2 separate regions of the Homo sapiens genome follow, and region 2 is reported to be linked to region 1. The links are microRNA targets in miRTarBase. Many come from high-throughput screens and were not tested one by one. Region 1 holds a microRNA gene; the other region holds the end of a gene's coding sequence.
What was found. The annotated mature microRNA hsa-miR-802 reads CAGUAACAAAGAUUCAUCCUUGU and lies in region 1 at 1,434-1,456, opposite strand. An mRNA with a match to its seed (bases 2 to 7 or 8) in the 3' UTR can be bound and repressed. Matches are read on the target gene's strand: a 7mer-m8 pairs with bases 2 to 8, a 7mer-A1 pairs with bases 2 to 7 and ends in A, and an 8mer does both.

Region 1 (4,070 bases):
GAGCAGGGAGGAGGATGGATGGAGAACAATCCTGTTCAGAGGAGGGCGACAGGGAGTTGTGGTTCCTGAGGAGGGGCAGGGAGTCAGGGAGGATGCTGGTTCCACCGTGGAAAGCAACAGGGCAGGGAAAGGAGATCCGACCCCCTCTTGAATGAGGCTGGACACTCCTAGCCAGTGTAGCCACAAGGAGAGAGGTGAGAGGAAGCCTGGGGGAAATAACCTGAATATTTGAGGGATGAGCCTAAGAAAAGATATATGAGGTGAGATTTTTAAAGGTGAAGAAAGATCAGAGAGATTATGGACCTAGGATGGCAAATGCAGCAGTACGTGTTTGCTTTCTCCTTGGGCAGAAATAGAAGGAAAAAAATCTCATGGATCCTAGAATAGTATGCATTTGCTAATTAAAGGCAAAAATGGCCTCTGGGAAGGGAACTCTGAAATGCACGGATTGCAAGTGAGATGATGGTGAGGAACTATTAGTATTTAGGAACTCTCTGAAACTTTGAGAGATAAATTGGATTTGTTCAGGTATGGAGGACAGGAGTTTAAAGGTCCAGGGACAAGTGGAATCCATCCAGCCATTTTTGTACAGGAGGAGGAAGAATAAAGAAGTAGGGTCACAAAAATAAATAAGTAGGAGTTCAGAAAGTTAAGGAGGCTGGGTACAGTGGCTCACGCCTGCAACCCCAGCACTTTGGGAGGCCAAGACAGGAGTATTGCTTGAGGCCAGGAGTTCAAGACCAGCCTGGGAAATATAACAAGACCCCATCTCTATTAAAAAAAAAAAAAGTGAAAGAAAAGATCACAATACAGGGAAAAGTGAGCTAAGAATCCCGGCATTAGAGAGCCCTTGATGTGGTCCTGAATCGGCTATTTCTATCTGTTCCCTGAGCCTAACCTCAGCGCTGGCCTCTCTAAACCTCTTTTCAGTCCTCTCATTTTGAAAACAGGGCCCATTACACATTCTCTGAAAGCTTGCTGAGTGATTTAACCACATAGTCTAGGGGAGGCACTCATCAAACATAAGGCCTCTCTTTTTGATTTTTATCCTATAGTGGTATCTATCTAGAGGCTGGTGAAGACAGTGTGGTGGAAGGAAAGTGGGAAGGATACACTGAAATAGGACATAGACGTAGAGGGGAGTCGATGGTCATCTGGCTTGATAGGGAAAGTTAGAGAGCTCTCCTGAACCACAGTTACAGAGCTTGGGATTATAACACACACAGCCCCAGAGAAAACACTTTGTTTACCATATTTCCTCTTCTGCTGGGGCTCTGGCACCTTAATTGGTCAAAAGGCAGCAAAGATCCGCAAAGCCTGTTCTGAATTTATCCAGGTCTATGCATGAACGGCTTCCTTCTCCCACCTTCCTTTGCAAGGTCCAGCTATTAATTACACTAAGTGACAAAGATTCTCCTTGTTGCATGATGGACACAAGGATGAATCTTTGTTACTGACTGCAAATAACAGAACGAGTGGTGACCAAGAGTCAGGCTGGGAATACACGCTTCAAATCACGCAATGGGCATATGGCACTTTCTTCTGAAATGACACAAGAGGCTGCAGAGAAACAGAGTGGGTATTATTTTGTTAACTTCCTCCTATGAAAATAGAGCCTCCGTCCTTTTTTTTGCTGGTTCATTTCTGGCACTGGAACAAACTGTCTCTTTACATTAGTTCAGTTCTGCAGAGAAACGCTCACTTAGAAGGAAATCGTTGGAAAATCCAGGCAAGAATCCATTTTTTAAAGTCACCACTGAATGATTGCTTTCTTATTGTGCTACATAGGGCTGGAAAAATCATTCCTTTTTGTACATATTTTTCTTTTTTACTTTGTGTTTTCATTCTGCTTAAGACACACATATGTGCCAAAAATGAAAACATTTTCAAAGGGCAAGTTTCAAGGACTCCTAAAAATAGGACCAGTTGCCAAATATATATTTCCCCAATATGTAAATGGCTGAAAAGGAGCACAATGAAAAGCATATGCTATTCAAATTTTCTTTAGAAAAACAAGAGCTGGAGGAGCTGACTGAATCTCTTTAAACTAGTGGCTTCCATGTAAATTTTATCTTTAAGTCTTCAGACATCATTCTTTGAATATTTTACATCTATCTTTTAATCAAGACTGAAACAAGCTACTAAGAATAATCTTATTTTCCAAATGGGAAAAAGTCATTTCATCACATCAGCCTGTAACTTGACATGAACCTTGCAAATAAGCATTAAGGCCAAAAAAGGTATAAAACACCCAGAACAGCTAGGCCACTTGTGGCTGCTTCACAGATCTAGGGGCAAATCCATGAGCTGGAAAGTAAAGTCACATTAGTTCGGGTAAGAAGTCTTTTATTTCTTGGCTTCTGCGGCCTGCAATCAGGAATTACCTGAAATTCTTTCTGGAAACAAAAAGGCAGAGCATATATACATTAATTAAAATCAAAGAAGTCAGTGGTGGAAGGGGTTTGCTTAGCATTCTATGGCTGTCACCCAGTATGAATGGATGTTCTCTATTCTTAAGCCTGTGCCTTGTAATTTAGGAAAATTATCATTCTTTGTGAAAAATCCCATTGGTGAGCTAATCTCTTAAATGCCTTCTTTTATTTTCTGAAAACAAAAACAAAAACAAAAACAAAAAACCAAAACTTTTTTGATCAATGAGTCAACATGTTTAATGATTATAAGTTGTCTTGTCAAAGGTTTACAAACCTGCATGGCTGTGTCCTTCTTGGGTGGGCTCCTGTGGGGCTGGAGTCCCCTGAATTCCCTGGAGACCTCCTTTTCCTCCAGCAGGGCTATGGAGACAGTGCTTGGCCAGGAAGTATGGCTGACAGTCTACACTTTTATCCTTGGAATTATCTTGCTTTCCCAGCTCTGGTTAAAATTTTTCTTTCATATCTTAATATTTCCATGATAGACCATGGGGGAGGGAAAAAACCTCAGAAAAGGTTTCACCCTTGCTGTTAAAAAGTTGTGACCTTTGCTCACATTTGCCAGAGAAAGTGGCTTATACCACCAATTAACTTGAATTATTAACTCTTAGATTAATAATTTATTAGAAACCTAAAGGCCTGGGCACTGCCAGATCCAAACGATTTAAAGAAAAACAAAGAAAACAACATAGCTCTGATTATAACAATTTGTAGACAGTGCTTGGAATAAGCAATGGCATTTTGGCTTTCCAAAGGATTTCTTATTTTCCCTCTAATACCATACTGACTGAAGAGTCAAGCAGATTCACTAATAATACCTATAATGACTCATGCAGATGTTGGTTTTAATTTTTTTTTATTTAAGAAATATTCATTGATATGGTTTGTCTGTGTCCCCAACCACATCTCATCTTGAATTGTAGTTCCCATAATCCCCACATGTCATGCATGGGAAGGACCTGGTGGGAGGTAATTGAATCATGGGGGCGGTTATCTCCATGTTGCTGTTCTCGTGATGGTGAGTGAGTTCTCGCGAGATCTGATGGTTTTATAAGGGGCTTTTCCCCCTTTTGCTCTGCACGTCTCTTTGCTACTGCCATTTTAAAAAGGACATGTTTGCTTCTCCTTCCGCCATGATTGTAAGTTTCCTGAGGCCTCCTCAGCCCTGCGGAACTGTGAGTCAATTAAACCTCTTTCCTTTGTAAATTACCCAGTCTCTGGTATGCCCTTATAGCAGCGTGAGAACGGACTAATACATTCATATACCTCTTTCTTTGCGTCAACTTCTATTTGAAACACTTGCATATGTTAATTTATTTAATTAGTGTTCCTAACGACCCTCTGACTTAGACATTTATTGTCATCTACATGTTACAGACAGGGCAAGGAGAAGCCATGCCAGAGTCACACAGATAGATGGTGAGTGGCTGCGTGACCTCGCCAGGGCTGCCCAAAGTAGCACAGACTAGGTGCTTTAAACAACAGAAATTTATTCTCTCACAGCTCTGGAGGCCAGAAGTCCAAGATCAAGGGGTCAGCAGGTGTGGTTCCTGCTGAGGCTGTGAGGGAGGATCTGTTCCTGGCTCTCCCCCAGCTTCTGGGAGTTGCTGCAGTCTTTCGCATTCCTTGGCTTTTAGACAC
Region 2 (4,070 bases), not on the chromosome of region 1:
CTGGAAAGTGCTAAATCAGCCAAGACCTGGACCAGACCTCGCTCCCATTGCTTTGTGTTGAGAGCTTTAGCACTTACTCACTAGGTCCGGCAGGCAGAAAAGAATATTTGGGTTTCCTCAGTGGATGGCTAGAAGCCACAGTTGGATATAATTCACTTAGTCTCGTGGTGTAATAGTTGGGTGGCTGTCTTCTAAATGAAATTCTAAACTGCTACGGATGCTGCTAACAAGTGGACTGAGAAATAGAATAAATACTTCTTTGAGGAGGGCTTCTTTCATGTTAAAGGTAGAAGGCAGTGTGGTTAGAAGTGTGGTGACTCCAAAGTTTAATTCCTTAGTAACTTAACAGCTATGTGACATAGAGTGAGTTACCTAACTTCTCTAAACTTCATCTTCCTGATCTTTAAAATGGGAAAAATAATATTACTAAACAGAATTGTTGTTAGGAGTAAATGAGTAAGTCATTAAGAGAGAATGTTCCATGCTCCATGATGTTAGCTATTATGATGCTGCTGTCAGTGATGAAAAACATCTCTTATCTTACAGGATGTAATATTCATAATCCCTTCAGATATTCTTACCTTTTAAAATTTGGAAGTTTGCCAAGTCAGTTAAGAGACAATAAAACACATCAGTCACAAGTATATTGTTGATCAACAAAATTTGTTGAAAAGTGTAGCATCATACTCAAATACAGCAGTACATACTAGGGAAGTTTCTGTAATGTTGGTCCTCCTTGTTCTCCCCCTACCTTCCCCCCTAAAACAACCTTAGTAATAAAAAAAAAAACACCTAGCACAGTTGCAAATACATTCCTGTTTTTTAAAAAGCCAGAATATACGTGTGTGTGTGTTATATATATAGTTTTAAAATGTGCCCTATAAATTTTTTAGTTTTTCCCTTGGTCTTTTGCAAAAGAAAACAAATCCTCAAATATACTTAGAGCTACATCATAAAAATGATCTTGAATTATTGGGAAAGGAAGGGCGTGTACTCTCTTTATGAAGGTAGAGAAATAAGAAAAATACAATCAAAAATGTTTTTATCTGTGCTGAATTAAGAATATCCTACCACGTGAGAGTTACCCGTTTTGTTATTTTTTTAAAAAAATTAACCACCTCCACCCATTCCAAAGAAACACATTCTCCAAAGATTCTGAAAGCTTACTGGACTCCGAGTACCAACACTAATTTCCTGAGAAAACTAAGAGAGCAGTGCTGTCCAGTGCAGAAATAGACTATTCTTCAATTTAATAAAGTGAAAACAAATATTTGTCACTTAAGTTTTAGAGAAGCAGTGGAAAATGTGTATGTACATAACTGAAATGCCATCCATGAAACAGTTACAACCAACAAAATAAGGAAGGCTTACGTTTCTATTTTACTTCAAAAGGAACAAATCAATTGGTCATCAGTCTTATAAGTTCTGGATTTGCCACCACCTCCAGAAACCGTACAAATGGATAATTCTTTTGTTTTACTTATTTATAACATATATATCACATAAGGCAAATTCACTTCATGCTTTACTTCAGTAAAATGGGGAAAAAAGCTTTCTCTGCAATTGGCACTAAAGTTGTTTTAAGTTCTTAATAGCAAGGAGATACATCCAACTATAAGCAGAATGAACACAGTCATAATACATATCAAATCAAAATTATTTCCTTTATATAATCAGCAATGAGTAACTCCAGAGGTAGTATGGCAGAAACGAGCATGGATCCTATCAGGTCACAACCAAGACAAAATTAGTATTTTTTCTATGGTTTTGACCATAAATTGCTTTACACATTTAGGACCTGAATAAAAACCACTTTCACCAGAAATCTTGGCCCATTAATTCAACTGACATTTCAATTTACAACTTTCAGGACTGCAGATATAAAAAATGTAAAGTATAAAATTATGTAAGTTTGAAATGGTTTTAATTGTATTCATTAAAAATATTTACATTTCCCAGTACTTACTTGACAAAACCCCCTTGCAATATAATTCTACTCTAAACTTTTATTTATAAAATGAGGCTCACTTATGACATTTCAATGACTGCGATACTGCAAATTACTTACATTCTGTAAAATATCTTACGAACTTTCATATCAAAGGTAGTTTATATTGGATTATCTGAAACCCAATAGAGCCCACAGATGAGCTTCCTATAGTTCTTTTCATTAATGCTTGGAAAGCATGTGAACATGAAAAGTGCTGTTAAGTGCTATCATCTCCCTTAAATTTTCACTTATACTGTGTGCACATTGTGAAATAAACACATATGCAGCATGTCCATGTTTTGATATGTATTTTTTATTTCCCTGCAGTTTTCACTTATCAAGAACAAGTAACAGGGAAAGTTGTCTGAACTAGTGCATAAACAAACATTCTGAAACACCACTACACGTATCTAATTTACAAGAACCGTATAAAAAAAGTCACTAAAACACTACACTATGAAGGTGTCCAACGCTTACAGTCAGACTTTTTCCAACCCGTTACTTGCCTTGTAGCCACAGGAAAACTCTCCAAAATTGAAAAGACAATCTTGCCACAACCCTCCCCCCGCCCAACACCTGGGATGGCTCGATATCTAGACTTCCAATAATTATTGCAATGATATAATGCAATACATACCTGGTAAAGTATCTTTTATGTGATGTGTTACAGTTTTAAAGCCAGTTAAAATATGCAGCCTTCAGATAAAATGTAATCCTCGAAAAATTTTCATATTTGCACAGTTTAAATGTGCTAGATGCATAATTTTTCCTATTCCATTTTTTCTGTGTAATTATTTTTTATAAATTGGTATCATAAATAGAAATATACATTCAAAATATATGGAAAAGTGAGTTACTACATTAAATTTGCATGTATCGATCCATCCCTTTCCCCTGCACAGTAATAGAAAATACTATTTTGCCTTGAACTTCATATTTGACAGTGAAATGCCACTAAAGTATTTACCAAAAAGTCCATCTAGTCAAATTGTGAAACAAAATGAACCAAGTGAAAACTTTACAGTTCCTTTAGAAAAAAATTACAAGAATTTCATTTCCTAGCTATGAATCTTTAACTTTTTAGACACAAAGTTGGATTTATTTTTACAAGATACAAAATGTAAACATGGCAAAATAAATAGTTAAAACAAGTGATGCAGGATCCCATTTCATGCTCATGATCCCATTAAAGAATTATTTTTTAAAATCCATTCAGTTGCAAATTCAAGTGCAAAAGCATGATGATGAATATCTACTATTCAAGTAACAGAAATAATATTGATGATACAAATAAACTATTTTACAAGGTAGTGATTTTCCCAATTTTACAAAATATACATCATATATGGATTTAACATCCAATATACTATAGTCCATTTAGGTCCATTGTTACACTCTGTGATCCACAGAGTGTTGCCTTTTGCATTCAGCTGGAATATGAATGACTGCACACCATCAGCACAGGTCAGAGCCACGTGTTTTAGGTTATGTCACTTCCATAGCTACTGTTGTCTCTGCTATTCCATTTAAGCCCAATCTTTCTGGTTCGTGGTTCTCTCTATGGTAATAAGGCAAAGGATAAAATAAATATCAATACTCTCTAGAACATGACGTTACCATTTAGTATTTTACAAAAACATTGTTACATAATTACAACTAAACATGACTTCACAAGAACAATTCCCATTTTTGCCATTTCTAGATAGGAATGAGAAAAACTTTTCTTCAGCTCAGAAATTCCATTAATTCCTAATTTTTTTATTATGGCTATTTACTTAGGAAAGATAATAATTTAACATGGCATTTCAGTAGAAGCCAATGAGAAATTACTTATGAAATATGTATCACAGGACAAACCAAGTTTTTCTTTTTTTTTTCTCGAGAGATGAAGCATATGACACTCAAAAAGAATAATCATTAGGAGCACAATATTACTGAAATTACTTTCCATTAGAGTTTAATTCTATAGGCTTAAGATCATGTATTTATTAACCTATGCAAATCAATTTTTTTCTGATTCATTGTTCTCCTTGTATTAGTGTCATAGAAAGAAATATAAAAACATTCTAAAATATACTAT

Region 2: the mRNA of EPC2 is a reported target of hsa-miR-802. Seed matches in the 3' UTR shown: 7mer-m8 at 3,253-3,259 and 7mer-m8 at 2,337-2,343.

The regions. Positions count from the first base shown.
Region 1 is chr21:35,718,118-35,722,187 of GRCh38, reverse strand. MIR802 (microRNA 802) reads right to left here and starts at 1,473; the gene lies at 1,380-1,473.
Region 2 is chr2:148,785,783-148,789,852 of GRCh38, reverse strand. It overlaps EPC2 (enhancer of polycomb 2), which reads right to left. Exons shown (of 14, transcript NM_015630.4): 14 at 2,284-3,548. The coding sequence ends at 3,476. Among named protein-coding and RNA genes, the nearest start is that of KIF5C, 87 kb to the left of the region's middle.